Homo sapiens: one gene and its partners. The protein of the gene in region 1 interacts with the protein of each later gene in a pairwise test. Each region holds a gene or a part of one and is shown on either strand. Other genes may lie near its edges. The genes, in order: TMEM255B, SFT2D1 and DGAT2L6.

What was found.
Region 2: the proteins of TMEM255B (region 1) and SFT2D1 interact in binary tests that used the Homo sapiens proteins (3 or more experiments, as listed by UniProt).
Region 3: the proteins of TMEM255B (region 1) and DGAT2L6 interact in binary tests that used the Homo sapiens proteins (3 or more experiments, as listed by UniProt).

The regions. Positions count from the first base shown.
Region 1 is NC_000013.11:113,754,671-113,762,297, forward strand, and holds the start of TMEM255B (transmembrane protein 255B), read left to right. Parts: upstream 1-4,555; 5' UTR 4,556-4,599; coding exon 4,600-4,645; intron 4,646-7,627.
Region 2 is NC_000006.12:166,325,526-166,332,642, reverse strand, and holds part of SFT2D1 (vesicle transport protein SFT2A), read left to right. Parts: intron 1-1,235; exon of another isoform or gene 1,236-1,258; intron 1,259-2,395; coding exon 2,396-2,482; intron 2,483-3,053; coding exon 3,054-3,136; intron 3,137-4,285; coding exon 4,286-4,367; intron 4,368-6,475; coding exon 6,476-6,511; intron 6,512-7,117. UniProt on the Homo sapiens protein: May be involved in fusion of retrograde transport vesicles derived from an endocytic compartment with the Golgi complex.
Region 3 is NC_000023.11:70,201,427-70,206,265, forward strand, and holds the end of DGAT2L6 (diacylglycerol O-acyltransferase 2-like protein 6), read left to right. Parts: intron 1-463; coding exon 464-638; intron 639-2,878; coding exon 2,879-3,090; intron 3,091-3,525; coding exon 3,526-3,680; 3' UTR 3,681-4,278; downstream 4,279-4,839. UniProt on the Homo sapiens protein: Diglyceride acyltransferase that uses fatty acyl-CoA as substrate. Particularly active with oleate as a substrate. Has no wax synthase activity to produce wax esters.

The DNA of each region.
Region 1 (7,627 bases):
TCCCACTGTAAAGATTGGCAATCCTATGACTTCTGTCTCCTGGACTCCTCCCAAGCCTGAATCCCTTCCCGGACGCTCACAGGTCGCAGCGTATCTTGGGTAACCCCATCCACTGCCCCCATCAAGCCAGCCCCCGACCTGTCTCCTGTTTCCCGGAGCTTGCTCAGAGATAACAGATTCATCCGATCCTCCAGGAAGGGCCCGAGCGGCCTGGCTCCCTGCCCTCCAGCTCTTAGCTCTGTGTGTCTCTCCTTGCGGGAGCCCTCCCTGCGACACCTCCCGCTGCCTCTCAGCGCTGAGCTTAACACGGTGGCATCACCTGGGAGGGCTCAGTCTTTCTGTCTCTTCTCCATCAGCCTCTGAGCTCCATCAGGGCCCCAGGTCAGTGATCACTCCTGTGCTTCCACAGCCCAGCGCCAAGCCCAGCCCTGCTCTGGGCCTGGACAATGCTCAGGACAGGACAGTGTGGGAGTCAGCCCCTGGCCCTGACCCTGGCTCTCGGAGCCAGCGCTGTTGCTTCCCTACCTCACTGGATGTTGCAGGAATGGGTTAGAGATCTGAGGACCACGGAAAGTTAGGGGTGAGGGGAGGATGAACCAGTCATGGGGAACCCCGGTATCTCTGAGTGAGTAGAGAAGGAAGGTGGTGCTGGCGGGAAGGAAGGACAGGTGCTGGCTGTGGGTTCCAGCCACTTCCGAGGTGCAGGCCTGGGGAGAGGAGGCAGGTGGGGCCTGCTCAGGGAGCCCCTGAAGAAGTTCTGAGTTGGCTGTGCTCCAGTTGGCCCCTGCACATTCCCCATGCCAGGCAGGCGCTTTTTCTCCTCTTTAAAAAGGCATTCCCTGAGCCTGGTGGAATGAGACAAACATGGAAATCCCTGGGCTGCTCTCAGTGGTGGAAGAGGTTGGGCACCCTGGCGGCTTAGGGTGGGACTCGGCCTGCAGAGCCAAGCAGGCGCCCTTTTTCCTCCTTTTCTTTTCCTTTCGTCCATTTAATTTTTAAAATATAACAGACTGTGGCCGGGCACAGTAGCTCTCGTCTGTAATCCCAGCACTTTGGGAGGCCCAGATGGGAGGATCACTTGAGCCCAGGGGTTTGACATCAGCCTGGGCAACATGAGGAAACCCCATCTCTACAAAAAGTATAAACCTTAGCTGGGTGTTGCAGCACACGCCTGTGGTCCTAGCTACTTGGGAGGCTGAGGTGAGAGGATCGCTTGAGCCTGGGAGGTGGAGACTGCAGTAAGCTATGATCATGCCACTGCACTCCAGCCTGGGCCACAGAGCCACAGCATGTCTCAAAAAACAAAAAAGTGACAGACTGCAAACAAAGGCACACCTGGGTAGAGGATGCACAGGAGCTCCTTGCACTATCCCTGCAAACCACCTTTAGGTTTGAAAATAGATAAAAATAAAAAGTTACAAAAAAGTAATCATCTATTTTAAACATCCAGAAAAGTATAGAGAATAATATAACATCCCTGTCCACACCATCTAGCCTTAATGGTATCTCAACATTCCCCCTTTTTTTACAAGTCTTTTAACTTTTTTAAAGAAAGAAGATTTCACAAATAGAGTTTAAGCCCCTAGACATAGTTCCAAAGCTGTTCAGCTTGTCCACCCAGACAGAGAATCACAGTTCTGGATGAAGCATGCACTCTCCCCCAGCATGTTCTTCTACTTTACTTACACAGTATCCATGCATCTACACACATGACTCACGGTGTCCATGTATCTGCACACACATGACTCATGGTGTCCATGTATCTGCACACACAAGGCGGTGTCCATGTATCTGCACACGAGACTCACGTCCGTGTATCTGCACACATGAGTCACGGTGTCCATGTATCTGCACACACGAGACGGTGTCCATGTATCTGCACACGAGACTCACGTCCGTGTATCTGCACACATGACTCAACGTGTCCGTGTATCTGCACACAGGACTCACGGTGTCCGTGTATCTGCACACAGGACTCACGGTGTCCGTGTATCTGCAAACATGACTCATGGTGTCCGTGTAATCACCTCCTACTGTTTCATCATATCCTATAACCAGTTTCTCAGCTTCCATTCTGCTATCCTACAACTACTCTCCAGTAATCCTATGTGTAGGACCCTCCAATAACCCCCACATCACTCGGAGCAAAGGCCAGAGGCCCTGCGGCTCACCCCTGATGTCCTCCACCTGGTCCCCACAAGCCTCTGGCACCCTGGTCTCCTTGCTGCTCCCCCTGGGCCTGGATGGCTCCACCCCAGGGCCTTTGCATGGAGGTTCCTTTTCCTCAGACCCTCTGCCCCAGATGTCTGGGTGAGCAACCACCTCCACGCCCTCAAGCTTGGTCTTCAACATCACCTGTCAACAAGCTCTCTTTTCACTACTTAAAAACCACAGCTCCCTCCCTCTCCCACACTATACTTTCTATTTTGTTTCTTTACCTCTCTTTCCTTTTTCTGTGGCCTGCATTACCTGGCTGTGTATGTATGTATGTGTGTATGTGTGTGTATGTATAAGTGTGTATGTGTGTGTATGTGCATGTGTGTGCATGTATGTGTGCATGTGTATGTGTGTGCATGTGTGTATGCATGCATGTGTGTATGTATATGTGCATATGTGCATGTATGCACGTATAAGTGTGTATGTATGCATGTGTGTATGTATGTGTATGTATGTGTGCGTGTATGTATGCACACATGTATGCATGTGTGTATGTGCATGTATGTATGCGTGCATGTATGTATGCACACATGCATGCATGTGTGTATGTATGCATGTGTATATATGCATGTGTGTGTATGTGTGTATGTGCATGCATGTGTGTATGTCTGCATGTGTGTATGTGTATATGTGTGTGTGTATTCCATAGCATGTTGCCCTCTGACATGCTGTGCATTTTTCTTGTTTATTGTATTATTATTCATGGCCTCACTTCCCCACCAGGATCCTTGTTTACGTTGCTCATTGATACATCCCAAGTACCTGGAACAGTGTCTGGTATATCGCGGATGTTTAGTAAGTCTTGAGAGGCTCACTGAGTGAACAGTGTTAATTTTCATGGTTTAAAACTTTATATAAATGGTACCATACTCGCTGCCGTACTTGCTGTCGTACTCGCTGCCGTACTGTGCACTTGCATTTTTGCTCCGCGTTCTGTTTTTGGCATTTATCCACATTGATCCATGTAGCTCTCATTTATTTTAACTGCCATGTGGTATTTCGCTGTATATGCCCATTTCTTTATCGCTTCTCCCCGTGTTGGATATTCAGGGTGTGTCCGGTGCTTTGGACACACAGTGTTGTGAGGAATATTCTGTACGCATCTTCTAGCACATGCATACTTCTTGTGGTAGTTTCTCTCTCACAGTGGATGGCCTATTAGAATGACTAGGGAATTCTTAGCTATTAGTTTGTTCCCAGAAGTTCTGGTTCAATTGATCTGGTCTGGGTTCAGTGCTGCAGAAATGTTTTTTCTTTTAAAGACATTCCTGGATGACTTTAACGACAGCCGGGGTTGAGAACCACGGCTCCTGGCTCGAAGGAGCAGATCTATGTTTGTGTTCTTGGGCATATCTAGAAAGAGATATGCTTTCTTTCTGGCTTGTCATCTACTTGCTTCAATTTTCCTAAAGGTTGCTTTCAAAGTGGTGGCACCATGCGTGATCCCAGCGGTGAATGCAGATTCCCACGTTTTCATTAACATTCTTTAAGTTGTTTGACCCTTGGGGTTTTCTGATAGGATGAGGGTGAAACGCATCCTCTTGTTCCCACAGCGTTCCCCTAATTCCGGGGGCTGAGTTTATTGATCGTTCAAGCATCTTCTTTTGTGACGGGACCGCTGATGTCCTTGACTCAAAGATGTTAAAAATACGTTTAGAAGGATCTTTATTTTTTCCTGCTGCTGTACGAGGCACCCTTTCTGGCCCCGTGTTTCCTTGCCCTTCTTTCCAGCAGCAGATTTTACTCAGAACAACTTCAGTGCTGTGGACACAAAGACGCAGGCCTTGGAGAGGCGGGTCAGCCCTGCCTCGGGGCTGCTGAGTGAGGTGCCAGATGCGTTTGTTCCTCATTTACTCATTTGCGTTTGTTCCTCATTTACTCGTTCCTCGCAGACTGGGTTGTAACACCATGTACCACCCTCTGAACCCAGAGATCAAGGGCTGGCTGGCCCTGTAGCCCCAAGGAGCTCCGTCACCGGCCAATGGGGAGGCGAACCCGTGGTGACCCACTCAGCGGCACCGCCAAGGGCTGAGCGTGGCGCCAGCGGCGGAAGGCCCGGGGTCACCGTCCCAGGCCGGGGCTCCGACCCCGAGTCCGCAGGGTCCTCTCCAGGCACCTTCCATCTGGGGTCTGGCTTCCACTCCCGGCCGCGGCGTCCTGATTTCCAGAAACCAGGCGGCCGCTGGAGGGGAGAAGGGGGAGCGGGCGCAGCGGGGGAGGGAGGAGAAGAAACGCCGGAGAAGGGAGAGTAGAGCGAGGAAGGACGCGAGGCGGGCGGAGCGCGGGGAGGTGCAGGGGGCGGGGAAGGGGCGGCGCCGCGAGGGCGGCTCCTGGCGGCGGGACTGTGGCTGTGGCCCCGGGAGAGCCGGGTGGGGCCTCGGGATGCAGCCGCCGGTGCCCGGGCCCCTGGGCCTGCTGGACCCCGCAGGTGAGCGCGGGGCTGGGGGCTCGTCTCGGCTCCTGCGGGGGAGCGTGGGGACCCCGGGGCTGGGACTACAGGTCCCCGGCCGGCCCGGGCGGAACCTGCGCGGAGACGCGGCACGGGGTCTGGTCCCTCCGCCTCCTTCGAGCTCTGTCTTTGGAACACTTTGCATTTCGCACTGGGGTCGGGCGTTCGTCCTACCGGTTCGTTCATTCATTCTCTCTCCCTGTCTCTCTCTCTGTCTCTGTCTCTGTCTCTCTCGCTCTTTCTGTCTCTGCCTCCTCAGTCTTTGCCTTTCTCTGACTCTGTGTCCGTTCCTCTTGGCCTCTCTCTCCCTGTTACGTTTTATTATGAGGAACAGGCGCCCCAAAGTGCGCTCCTTCCCCATCTCTTCCGTTTATTCCAACCTACACCATTTTCCGGGAAAACTTCGTTTGGAAGAGCGAGGTAGCCTTTTCCTGTTTGAACGTGCAGAGGCGCTCACAGAACTGGACAGTGTTGCTTGGTTTCGGCTCGCCCCTCTCTCGTGTTTCTCCCCGGTGTGTTCACGGAATCTCCAATTCTTCCACTTCCCAGACCAAGCCCGCTGCAGCCTCGGAGCCAGGCAAAGGCTGGGAAAACAGGAAACCTGTTGCGTGTTCACCAGTTCGCAAGCCGGGCTCGGGGGCTCTGCCGGGAAGTGGCCAGGACTGGAAGGATGCCGGGTGTCTTCCTGAGGGGGAGAGGGCTGGGCAGATTTCAGAACAAAAGAGAAACAGAGTTCCCTAGAAAGTGAAGCCCTGACGGCTGGAGGGAGGGATGGAGTGGTGTCTAGGGGGCTCTGCCGCTCCCTCAGAAATAATCCAACACAAACTTCTGGGGATTAACCTCACAACCCTTTTACTGCGGCATCGTTCGGAACCGGACGAATTACTGTTACTTAAAATAATCAAATAATTTGGCTTCTTTCTAAAAGAAACCACTATATGCCTTCCAATCTAAAGCAAAATGCTCTATGGTCAAATGTATTAATGTGGATTAGTCTATTGGTGTTTAATAATGATAACTATTATTATTATTTATTAACTAGTTTTATCATTATTAGAATGCCTTAATGTTTAAAAATAGCATCTGACTTAGATTTTCTTCTGACAAAGAACTTTAAACCTTAAAACAATACTTGGAGCTGGTCTTTTTAGTATATGAAACATTGGTGTATCTGGGTAGGATTATGGGTCTTTTTGTTTGGAGCTGGTCTTTTACTAAAATGTATAAAGCATTGGTGTGTCTGGGGTTGGATTATGGTCTTTCTGCTTTGGTGTGTCGGGGTGGATTATGGTCTTTCTGCTTTGGGGTATCTGGGGGTGGGTTATGGTCTTTCTGCTTTGGGGTATCTGGGGGTGGATTATGGTCTTTCTGCTTTGGGGTATCTGGGGGTGGATTATGGTCTTTCTGCTTTGGTGTGTCTGGGGGTGGATTATGGTCTTTCTGCTTTGGGGTATCGGGGGTGGGTTATGGTCTTTCTGCTTTGGGGTATCTGGGGGTGGATTATGGTCTTTCTGCTTTGGTGTGCCTGGGGGTGGATTATGGTCTTTCTGCTTTGGTGTGTCTGGGGGTGGGTTATGGTCTTTCTGCTTTGGTGTGTCTGGAGGTAGATTGTGGGTTTTTCTGCTTTGGGGTATCTGGGGGTGGACCATAGTCTTTCTGCTTTGGGGTACCTGGGGGTAGGATTATGGGTTTTTCTGCTTTGCCCTTCTTTGTTCACTACCCTGGGCATGTGTAAAATCAGGACGAAAGAGGAATTGACGGCTGAGTGATTACAGTTTTACCTGGGATTGTTACTTGGACACCATGACTGGTGTCCCCACATGATTAAATGGAACTCACTCTTCTTTTTGGGCGTTCCAGGTCCGGCTGGCAGGAAGGCCGGATCTTAGAACCCTTCCAAGCAGTGCCACCTCCCATGCTTTGTGACATTCCCCTTCCTGGCTCTGTGGAGTAGAGGAAATGGGTCTGAGGGGCAGGAAGAACCTGACCTCCAGCCTCGCGTGTCTTCCAGGTAGGACCTGGCGTGGGCACAGGCTCATGTGGTTCAGCTCCTCCAGCTAAGGCTGGGGAAGGAGCCAGGAAGGGGAGAGCAGGTGGGATGGGAGAAGTGGGGGCTGGTGGGGAGTGACAAGGTGATATTCTGAGATATCCTAGATGGGCTGCACCTGGGGAAGACTAGAATTAGAAAAATCAGCGCACTTGATAGCAGAGAGGTAGCTGTTGGCCCCTTCAGCTTCACATCTCAGAACTCCTCCTTGCAACTCCAGTGGGAGAAATGCTGGTTAAGAATAGCCGCTACGCCGTCTTAAAGTTCACACCACCCTGATGATTAGCATATGCATTCCATTTACAAAAACCTATATGAGAGCCCACGTATCGTGTCTCACTGGACGCTTATCACAATCTCAAGAGGTGGGTGAGCAGGTGGTTCTCATGATTTCCATCCTACAGGTCAGGAGACTGAAGTGCCTTCATTCATTCCGTACCAGGAGATGTGTCTATGTCCTCATCTGAGCCCCGGGAACCGGCGACAAACAAGAGACAGAGCTCTTGGCTCTCATAGGGTTCTCTTCTCCCAGGCTCAGGGAGATTAAATGGCCGCCCAAGACCACACAATGGGTCTGGACAGACCCAGAATGGTTTGGGTCCAGTCCCTGTAAGCTGCCTCTGCAATAGAAACCTATTGGTAGATATTTTAATTAATAGTTGGGGCACTTAGGAGCACTTTAATTTTCACAGTGCGTGTAATAACAGTATTTCCGGGACAGGAAAAAAAAAAAAATCAAGGAAATTATTCAGGTGATTTTAATTATCTTTCTCCTAAGTGAAAGCCCCTTTCTCTTGAAAATCTGACCTTATAATTATCTCTTATGCTAATTATAAAGATATCCCACCTTCTTTTCTTGAGTTTATTTTTTTTCTCATTTTTATGCTGTGTCATGTATTTATAGAATGTGTTTA
Region 2 (7,117 bases), on another chromosome or scaffold:
GATTAACAAAGTTGCTGGTTTTGGTGGGATTGCTCCTGATTGGTGGTAAAAGAAAGCAGCACATAAATGCTTATGATAAGCAGGCTGGGTGCAGTGGCTCGTGGCTCATGCCTGTAATCCAGCACTTTGGGAGACCGAGGCGGGTGATCACTTGAGGTCAGGAGTTTGAGACCAGCCTGGCCAACATAGTGAAACCCCGTTTCTACTAAAAATACAAAAAATTAGTCAGGCCTGGTGGCGTGGACCTGTAGTCCCAGCTAATTGGGAGACTGAGGTAGGAGAATCACTTGAACCTGGGAGGCGGAGGTTGCATTGAGCTGAGATGGCGCCTGAGCAACAGAGTGAGACTCTGTCTCAAAAAAATGCTTGTGATAAGCAGACGTCAGGGTTCCTTCTGTCTCCTAGTTGGAAGATGCACTGCCAGGTTTTCTTTCATGTTGAAGCATATCACAGTTTTCCCAATTAGGAGTCAGGAAATCTGTATAGTTGTTTCGTATCCTAGACAATTTGCAAGACTTGAGACAAATCATTTGCTTGTGGATTGAATATTCCATGTTTACAAGTGGAAATAATTTGTCCTGCTGTTTCGTTTTAAAGATCAATACACGGAAGATGGCAATAGGAGGAAAAAATACCTACTATTATACAAATAGCCGTGCTGTTTCCTTGCTGAGAGAAAAACTGGCTATTGAAAAGCAGCGATTGAACTTGTGAACAATGGGGTGATTTGAACTTGGAAAAGAAGGAAAAATGGATGCTTTTTCCTCTCACTAAATCCTCACAGCATTGTGGACTCACACGAACCTTTAGAAATCATTATTCTTTCCATTTTTAATTGACAAATAAAAGTTATATACATTTATTGTGTACAGCGTGATGTTTTGACCTATGTATACTTTGTGGGATGGTTAAATGAAGCTGATGGGCGTGTCTCCATTTTTTTTAACAGATCATTTACTATGTAATTCAGTCTTTGCAGTTTATTCTGGCCTGCGTAGTTAAAATATACTTAGTGTATATTCTTCCTGATCAGTAAGAATGAAATGTAGATGTTTTTATAGGCAATTTCACTCTTTGTTTAAAACCAAGTGTTTAGTTTTGCCATAAACAGATGACATTGCTGGAAACAAGAATGTGAATTAAAACTTAAAAAACATTTAAAATGTGTTAAAGAGTGATATATGTTTCATTACAGAATACTTAGTTATTTTTATCTGCTTTTCATGCTACATAAGGATTCACAGATTAATCTCTTGAGGTAAGGAATGTAACCAAATGTATTTTGAACTGTTGCATATAGAACTTTCTCTTATTTTTCATTATTCTTGAAAATATAAGCATGTAGTCTTATTTTTAAGTGGATGTGGTAGTATAAATTAGAAATTTAAGTTTTGGAATATAAATCCTTGCTGTATATTTCTAGTTTCTTGCACAGCTGCTGTTGATAGATACTTTTTTAGCCTTATTTGGAAAATATATTTTAATAGTATAATTAGTAATCTGAGTGTGTTTATTTCACCACTACTGTGTGCTGGGTTATCATACTGTACAAAGTAGACTTAGTAATTTCTACTTTTTTCCCCACATAATTTGGCTAGAATTTGCATGGTATATAGGAATGCTGTTGCTCTAGAATAAATGATCATTTCACAGTATGTTTTTACAGTGGTGGAGGAGGGGCCCAAAACTTTCATGGGTTGGACTGAAAGAGCTTAGAACGGGTACCGTCTGGTGCGTGCTGTGATCGTCTCTGCTGGGGCTGCTCAGGCTGCCTCCTGTAGGTGGCCAGCGTCCTCTACCCTCCATGGGGTGCAGTCACCCCACCCCACCCCTGGCCTGCAGCCAATGACCGGCCGAAGGGAGGTGGCGTGTGGAAGGCCAGCCTCTGCCTCCAGCAGGACTTGCACTGAGTGCGGATGCACTCGGATGCACTCAGACTCTGGCATCTAGGAGCCTGAGGAATTCGTCCTGCAGAGGCAGAGAGAACAGATAATGAACCTGTGTACTCTTTCCCAGCCTCTGCAGTTTCAGTGTTTTGCCTGGCCTGTTGCATCTGCCCCCTGTGTTTTTTTAATCTTTGTATATTTTATAATATATCTTATATGTCATTTTATCCATATCAGTGTATATCGGCTGTCCCTAACAGATAAGGACTTTTGTGAAACATATTATCAGACTTTGCAAAATTAATGGTTATTCCTCAGCATCATCTGCTACCCAGACCATGGTCATATTACCCTTAACAACCGTGGAATCTTAGTATTCTTGAATGACACTGTGATATGCAAAATAAATGATTCAGACTATGTGTTAAAACTTTGCTTTAATTTAGTATAAAGAATCAGATTGGTAGTGAATTAAGACTATATTCTAAATTTTCCCATTTTTTATTAAGGTCCTGGATGCCTCATCCCTTAGTTTCAACACCAGATTGAAATGGTTTGCCATCTGCTTCGTATGTGGCGTTTTCTTTTCTATTCTTGTGAGTTAAGGCTTTATATTGTTTAATAATTTTTATTTTGTATTAGACTAATAATTCCATTTAGTACCAAAAACTAATGTCCTTTACTAAATCCCTGTTAGACCATTTTGGTGGAAGGTATTTATTAAACTAAAATAAAGGGGTAGAGATCAATGAAAATACGTAGAAATTAGTATTTTGGGGAGTTTTGTGGATAGTTGAAATAATTTAAGAAAAATGTATCAATGTGTTAAAAGATCTGGAGAGTCAGTAATTTAGATGTTTATTACCTTTTCATACTTGGTATTTAGCATGAAAATTTAACTTAAATAGACTGAGATTTACTGGTAAGCACAAAGTTTTGTTATGGCTCATTTATATATGCTAGTGCAAATAGGAAGAAGATTCAAGTTAGTGTATAACATTGAAAATTAACTATTTTTTCTGTGTAATCAGACTAGACTGTCTACAAGCAGATTTGTATTTAAACATATTACATAATATTGGTATTGTATTACTGCAGTAGCACGTTTATATTTTAACCATTAAAATCATAAAATTATTTTAAAATAACTATAATATCTTAACTTAGGGAACTGGATTGCTGTGGCTTCCGGGCGGCATAAAGCTTTTTGCAGTGTTTTATACCCTCGGCAATCTTGCTGCGTTAGCCAGGTACGTTTGGCTTCTCAAAATATCTTGTTTGCTCTTGCTACCAAATTTACCTTTCTAATAAGCACTTTCCCAGTAGGATGTTTATGTAGTTCTGTACATACTGTGAATTCAGCCACAGGATTTACATTCATTAAATAAATATGTATTGACTGCTGCTGTATGCCGTCTCCCATAACAGACGGTATTAGTGCTAGGAATAGCCAGCCTTTGTGGGGCACTTAATGTGTGTCTGGGACTGTTCTAAGTGTTTTGTATGTATTATGACGAGCTTGTGAGGTAGGCAGTATTATCATCCCCGTTTATAACTGGAGATAATAGCACAGAGCAGGGGAGTCAGTGCTGCCCATGGCGATGAACCTAAATCATGGCTGAGGTGGGAATCCTGCAGGCAGTGGGAATCCGGAGGTGGGATCCCACCATGGCTGAGGTGGGAATCCGGAGCCCAGGCTTGGAGCTGCTGCACTCTAGGCTTTGTTCTTGTGGAGCTTACATTTTAATGAAGAAGATGTTCACATGATAAGCCAGAAAAAGATGGGATGGCATTGGTGCTGTGCAGAGAATTAAAACAGGGTGTGGCAGTAGTGACAGAGGGCTACTTTATATTGGGAGTATGAGAATCCCTCTTTGAGAATCTTTGTCGCATCTTTGGGTTGTTGTTTGTCTTAGCCCTTTTTATGCTGCAGTAACAGAATACTGTAGACTGGGCGACTTAGGAAGAATAGAAATTTTTCTCACAGTTGGAGGCCTGAAGTCCAAGGTTAAGGCACATCCATCCTGCTGATAGATGCATCCCCCAAGGGGAAGATCCCTGTGTCCTCCCAGGGCAGAAGAGGAAAGAGCAACCCCCAGGCAGCCTCTCCTCCAAGGGCCTTTGATCCCTTTCAAAGGGAGGAGTTCTCACAGCCTAGTCCGGTCTTCATACTAACACACTGAAGACACTTACATTTTGGAGAAGACACCTTCACACCATAGCATGTCTATTGGTATAGTTGTAAAGTTTCTTTATAAAGTTAAGGAAAAAAAAAATTTTAGTGAGAGATTTTAATTAAATAAAGCAACAGGGCTTCTTTTTTAAAAAAGTAGTTTATTTTTGCATAACCAGATAAATTAGTAGACCTGTACCTCAGTCACTTTATTTGTTTCAAATAGTACATGCTTTTTAATGGGACCTGTGAAGCAACTGAAGAAAATGTTTGAAGCAACAAGATTGCTTGCAACAATTGTTATGCTTGTAAGTAAATAATACATTTTTAAAACTTTTATTGAAGTATTCTTTGCACTGTTATTTTACGAATAATTGCCTGTTATGTATGTATACTTCTTTTTTTATTTTTATTTTTTTTTATTATTATACTTTAAGTTTCAGGGTTGTATGTATACTTCTTGTGTTGAATATAATAATTATATCCGGCCGGGCACGGTGGCTCACGTCTGTAATCCCAGCACTTTGGGGGGCCAAGGTGGGCGGATCACCTGATGGCAGGAGTTCAAGACCAGCCTGACCAATATAATGAAACCCCGTCTCTACTAAAAATACAAAAATTAGCCCGGTGAGGTGGCATGCACCTGTAATCCCAGCTACTTGGGAGGCTGAGACAGAATCACTTGAACCTGGGAGGTGGAGGTTGCAGTGAGCCAAGATCACACCATTGCACTCCAGACTGGCCAACAAGAGTGAAGCTCCATCTAAAAACCAAAAAAAAAATATATCCTATGTGGTTATAGAGTTCAGATGGTACAGTATTGTCTAAGACTACTGGCTGGGTAAAGCCTGCTTCTGCTGCGTATATGGCATGGTGTAGCTGCGTATTTAAATGGAGCCTAGAGCTGAGTGTGCTTTCATTTTTAAGCCCTGCTGATGGTTTCATGAGGGATTGTTAGTTTGTACCCTTTAGAGGGTGGGCATAGACACCCTCTATGCTGAGGGTGAGATTTAGCATCATTTGTCATCTGACTTTTGTCCCTTCTCTGTGTGCCAACTTGACAAATTCTAACAATATGGCTCCCGTAACAGTATCTTTAAAGGTGCCTTCCATTACATTGTGGGTTCTGTCCACAACTCTCAGGTCATCACTCTTATTATCTTGAGCCTGGGTGGCGGGTAGATGAGAGCTTACACTTTGGCTAGTAAGGTTGTTTCCATTCTCATACGTGCTGGGTGTTCAGCTGATCATCGTTTTGTGTATTGTGGGCAGGAGGGGGACCCAAATCTCTTCTGCATCCTGCCTCTGCCTCCTAACTCACCTGGTCTGTGTCTCTTGTGGATTTCTTTTGCCTTCAAGCATTTATGATATTTAAAGAATTTAAATGTTACCATTATAACTATTAACATTAGCTTTCCAAACACAGCTAACCTATGTTAATTTATAAGGAAATGTTTGTTAACTCTAATCTGCCTGGCAGTCTTCTCCCATCTCCTCACTAGAGTAAAAACTCATTTTTAGCTTTATTTATTATGTCTTTATTCAACTTCATAGTTTCTTACCACTTTTATAATCTCCAATTATTTTGAATTTCCTATAATAGCATATGTATCAACATATATATAAACATTTAACTTCAGATTACTAACAAAGTATATTTCACTGTTAGAATATAAGTAGTTTATATTCCACTAAGATTTTAGTTAGTTTTATTTAAGAAATCCTGGCACTTACCCCTCAAACTTTTTAGTAACATACTGTACCTTACAAAAACACACATGTTGAGAGAACGTGGGAACGTTTGAACATATAAGACGTCTCCCAAGGTGGAGCACTTTGCGTGGTTTGATTTGCTGCCCACGTAAGATCACGCCTAGTAATGGTGGTGAAGAGGCTGTGCCACATAGAGCCTTCCACATGCCAGCTTCTAGCTCAAGCCCATCACGGATGCACTCTACCTTATTCATTACAACAGCCCTTTAAAGCAGGTAGGTAGGAACTCTCCTCATTTTAAAGAGAAGACAACAGGTTTAGACGAGTCCACTGACTTCACCAAGGACCCTCAGATAGCAGGCGTCAGAGCTGGGATCTCTTTAGGTCTTTCCAACACCACACTGCCCACCTCTTGCATTCACTCCTGTGCCTGCTTGCTTTCATGGGGATGTGGAATGATCATCTTTCAGTTTACTTAACAGATTAAATTATTAGATGCTTCCAATTTGCCAAGGAATATTGCAGTCATAGACTTTAAAGTAAAATAATACTTACAGAAAATACAAGTAAAACTATTCAGCTGTATTCTTATTTTTGTTCTATAGTATATTCCCTATGTAAATGAATGCAGAATAGTTTATGCATTTTTATTAGGCTTTTGAAAGGATCTCAAACTTATAATCTACTCTTTCTTCCCCTGTAGTTGTGTTTCATATTTACCCTGTGTGCTGCTCTTTGGGTAAGTTATGTCAGCCCTACTGGCTTTCAGTTAACTGTGTGCCCCCCACCCCAGCTGACGTGTCATCACACCATTATCTTAAAATAGCTCATCTGTTTTTTTAAAACTCTCTAAAGATTAGGTGTTCCTAAAATTTGACATGTTACCATCCAGCTAGTTGCTAAAAATGCCATAGATTCTACTGTCTACAGCATAGAGGTAGTCAGTGAACACACATGTGCACACATGCTCACCCACCCAGCTGGTGGCTAAATGTGCCATAGATTCTACTGTCTGCAGCATAGAGGTAGTCAGTAAACACACATGTGCACACATGCTCACCTACCCAGCTGGTGGCTAAATGTGCCATAGATTCTGCTGTCTACAGCGTAGAGGTCATTAATAAACACACATGTGTGCCCGAGCTCACCTGCTTGTGGGCCTGGTTGGCAAATCTGACAGTGCCCGGTGTGGTGAAGGGCCCTGGCTCAGGGGCTGTGCTCTCCACCATGCTGCTGCAGGGGTGCGCTGTGAGTCTGCAGTGGTGAGGCAAGTGTGCTGCCGAGTAGCAAGGTGTAAAACCAATAGAGAGGGCCAGAAAACACAGATAGTAACAACAAAGAGAGG
Region 3 (4,839 bases), on another chromosome or scaffold:
AAACCCCAGCCATTGGCTTCCCTTTGGCAGGTTACTCTTAGGGAGGAAGCAGGTTGGTGGTGGCTAGTCTCGATTACCCCTGGAGGAGAGAACTCTGGAGGATCTCCAGTGTTGTCAGGCTGGGCAGAGTGGAAGATGGCTGTGCTTCATGGGTAGAGAGGGATGAGGTGGGCTTAGATACTATTGATCTGAAATGCAGTAGGCTATGGATGGTAGGAGGCAGAGGAGCTCAGTATAGACCCAACTGCAGAAGCACAGACCCCCAAGGCAAACAGCTGACCCTAAGGACCAATCTTAGGCTAGGGCAGTCATAACCCGGGACACGAAGGTCAGAGACAGAAAGGTGGAAACAGCAATAGTCAGAAAACAGAAGAACTGTCTCCAAAAGGAAGAGCCTGGGAAAACCCCTTACCCCATCCTCAGGAATGAAGTTTTTCTACCACTTGACTCTTTGGTTTCACAGGTGTGTGCCCTGTGAGTAGCTCAGCCTTGAAGTACTTGCTGACCCAGAAAGGCTCAGGCAATGCCGTGGTTATTGTGGTGGGTGGAGCTGCTGAAGCTCTCTTGTGCCGACCAGGAGCCTCCACTCTCTTCCTCAAGCAGCGTAAAGGTTTTGTGAAGATGGCACTGCAAACAGGGTGGGTTCCAAGGTTCTAGTGCTCTGTTGTCAGGGTGCCATAGGCCCTCTGTAGCCCTCTCCAGAATGGTGCCCTCCCTGGGCACCTGTTAGAGGGCCCCCATCTTCACTCTAATTCCTTCTGTCTACCCCCTCACATTGTGCCTTAGGGATGTTTGGGCCTCCAGATACATTTCAGTGGGCACTTTTCTTACTTGAAGTTGGAGAAAGAACAGCAGAAGAAAACCTTTTACTTTCTGCCCATTGGCCTGGTAGGCTGGAGGTCTGGGAAAGCGGGGCTTCACTCTATATCAACCTGTTAACTGAGAGGCCCTAAGAATCTACCAACTGCAAGGGAGGCACTAGCTTTGATACCGTGAGGATCAAAAAGATAAGACATGACCCCAAAGAGCATACAATCTGGTTTGAGAAATAGACCTTATTCATTCAGCAGTTACGGAACACCCACTGTATATCAGGCATAGTACTAGGCATTTAGGATATAAAAGTAAATAAGACCTGGTCCTTGCAAACTCACAGTCCAATATGGAAGAAGACAGACCCATGCACATATAATTACCAAATACCTGCAGAATCCAACCACTTACTACCTAGGCTACCACCCCTTGGTTTACTACCACCATCTCTCCCCTTGGTTGATTACAACACTTCTAACTGCTCTTCCTGTATCTATTCCCACCTCCCCCACCCCAAGAGTCTATTCCCAGCTTCAGCCAGGATGATCCTGTTAAACATGAGTCAGATCATGTCACTTCTCAAAATAATCCAATGGCTCCCATGTCACTCAGAGTAAAAGCCAAAGTCTTTATAGGGGCTTGCAAGACGCGGAATAATCTGGTCTATAGCTGCCTCTCTGTCCTCATCACTCACTTCTCTTCCCACTCTCTCACTCCATCATAGCTATACCGGCCTCTTTGCGGTCCCTCAAGCAGGCCACCCGCTCCTGCTTTAGAGTCTTTGCTTTAGCGGTTCCCTTGGAACACTATTCCTCCAAATGACTGCTTGGCTCATTCCTTTATCTCCTTCAAGTCTTTGCTCAAATGTCTCTTCTCAATACAGTTATCTGACCATCTTGCTCTATTTTTTGCCGGTTACACTTATCTTCTTATAGCTCATCCATTTTATTTATTTGTTTACCAACTATTTTCAATGTTTATTGTCTGTCTTCCTCCCAGAAAAAGTAAACTCCACGAACACAGAATTTTTAAAAATCCATTGTATTCACTGATGCATCTCCAGGGCCTAAAACAGTGCTGGCACATAGAAAGAGCTTAATATTTGTTAAATAAATGGAACACTACAATGGAAATGTGTACAAAGTGCCACGTGAGCACCAATTTATGGAAAGATCTTGACCCAGAATAGAGGTTTCATAGGTGGGTAACATCTGAACTGTGAATTGAAATATTGGTAGGAGTTGCCAGGCAGACCAAAAGGGAGAAAGAACTCAGGCATTCAGTGAGGACCTATGGCATGTCAAGTGCTATGCCAGGGCCTAGGGATTCAAAGATGAATATGACCCAGTTCTTGCCTTTGATTGGCTTGCTGTCTACTGGGGGAGTCAGGCAAGTAAGGAGATGACTATAATACACGGTTGGGGCAGCGTTAGTGTAGAAGAGAGGTAAGCACTAGATGAGGGGTACCTAATCCGCGTTGGGGGAAATGAAGTGGTCAAACAAAGTTGCTTTAAGGGGATGAGATTGGGACTGAGTGCAAAATTGAATGAGCCACATAAAGACAGAGGGAAGAAGGAAGATACTTCCGACAGAGGGAGCAGAATGTACAAAGACACAGAGATGAGAGAGTATGAGGCACACTTAATATGGCTAAGCAGATTGCAAGGAAAGAGTGGGGAAAGGGAAAGCTAGCCAAGGAGGGAAGGCTAGAGCAAAAAGGCCGTAAGGAAGCAGCATGGTGCAAACTGAGGAGCTCTGGAAGAGTTTGAGAGGAGTGGCATGTCCAGATATGCAGTTTACGAAGAACACTCTGCATGCTGGATGCAATGAAGACAGAGCTTTTGAGATTAGTTTCTCCCTATAACAGGACAAGGCAGAGCAGCAGCTCCCTTCAGAGTTCAGTTGGGAGAGTGAGGCATGGCAGGAATGGGACATGAAGATGGAGATGTTTGGGTGCTTGGGTTCTTGTCCTATAATGGGGAGGTTGGAGAGGTTTCCCACCTTGGAGAGGATTTTTCCGGGGATCTTCCTCAGAGAGCTCACACTCCTGCCCCTCTCTTTGCAGGGCATACCTTGTCCCTTCATATTCCTTTGGTGAGAACGAAGTTTTCAATCAGGAGACCTTCCCTGAGGGCACGTGGTTAAGGTTGTTCCAAAAAACCTTCCAGGACACATTCAAAAAAATCCTGGGACTAAATTTCTGTACCTTCCATGGCCGGGGCTTCACTCGCGGATCCTGGGGCTTCCTGCCTTTCAATCGGCCCATTACCACTGTTGGTGAGCTTTCCCTTATCTCCGGATGACCTGTTTCTTCATTCACTTCCCACCCACTTTAAATCATCCATCAAGTCCAGGGGGACCCAACTCACATCTGGGATGGGCAATGGGTGTGGTTAAGAGCAGGGTGGGTAGGACAACTAAACAGATAAGAGTTGTGGCCATTCATGGATGTGACATCAGCATCTGCTACAAGAGCATCACCATTCGCACACATTCTGTCACCACTCTCCTGAGCTTGCTTGCATTCTCTTGAGCATGGGTTTGATTAGATGATCAGAGAACAGGGGCCAGGATGAGACTGGAGCAAAGGGAAAGAAAGAAAGAAGGGGAGGAAAGCCAGATACTGAGTTTCAGTACATGGCTCCCAGTGAGGGATGAGTAGTTTGAGTTGAGGGGGGAACTCTGATGTTTGTCTCTTTTCTTTTTTCATAGTTGGGGAACCCCTTCCAATTCCCAGGATTAAGAGGCCAAACCAGAAGACAGTAGACAAGTATCACGCACTCTACATCAGTGCCCTGCGCAAGCTCTTTGACCAACACAAAGTTGAATATGGCCTCCCTGAGACCCAAGAGCTGACAATTACATAACAGGAGCCACATTCCCCATTGATCAACCCCCAAAGCCATGAGGGATCCAAGTAGAGCCACAGAAAAAGAAGAATTCCAGGAGAGGGAAAGATCGTAAGGATGAGAGAGGAGACCATCCAAGCCAGAAATTATTTAATAAATCAGAGTTCTAGCAATAGAGTCCTCTCCCAAGTGGCTGAGGCAGGCTTAGGGGAAAGAACCAGAGGGGCAGGGGAGGACTGGGGAGGGCTGGCTAGCCAGAGGAGTTGGCTGTATCACCCCTGGTTATTTTAGGGCAACAACCCAGTTGGGGAGTCTTATGAATCATTCCAGCCAACTCTCTGATCACAAAGAATACTGTGCCCCTTTCTCCTAAACCTTAGTTCACCATCACTACGTAGGTTTAGACTTAGAAGCTTTATTTGGAACAGGGATAGTTTGTTTCCTCTTGGTCCTTTCCTTACAACTTGGGAACTGCCACAAGGTAAACCAGGGACCTGAACTGTAGCTGCCTGGTCCAAGCAGACAGGATTCCGTCAGTTGTGATAGAGTTCTAGATTGGCAATGCAGTTACATTGTTTCTTCTTTGAAAATAAAGTTCTAGACATATAAAACAGGATACCACTATTTCCTGATTATTCTGTGGTTCGCTATTGGGCTTCCCTCAAACCTAAGATTTTCCCTTCTGGCCAGAAAGCTGCTCTATGGAGAGCCCTTTTCCTCTTCTTTATTTACCCTTCATACTTCCCCGGACAGAAAAGGTGGGGGAATGGAACCATAGCTGCTGCAAAGTGTAAGAGACAGGAGCAGAAACATGGGAACTGGCACAGGTACCCGCTGTGTAGCCCACCTCTCCTGATCCCACATAACCATCCTATGTCAGAAGGGAGGGAGCCACAAGACCATGCACCAACTGTAAGTTTGCTTGATGTCAAGTCCCTTCTATGTTCCAGGGACCATGACATTGCTTTCATAACCATTGTCTCTCAATACTAAACATAAGCCCAGTGAGATTGAGATTGTCATCACCTCCATTTCACAGTAGCTAAAGCTCCTAGAGGGTTAGTAGCTTGCCCAAAGCCACACAACTTTGGATAGAACTAGCATTCAAACCAGAGTTCTCTCCAATGCACCACTCTATGTCCCCATTCCTCATTTTCTGGAGACCCACTTTTCAGCT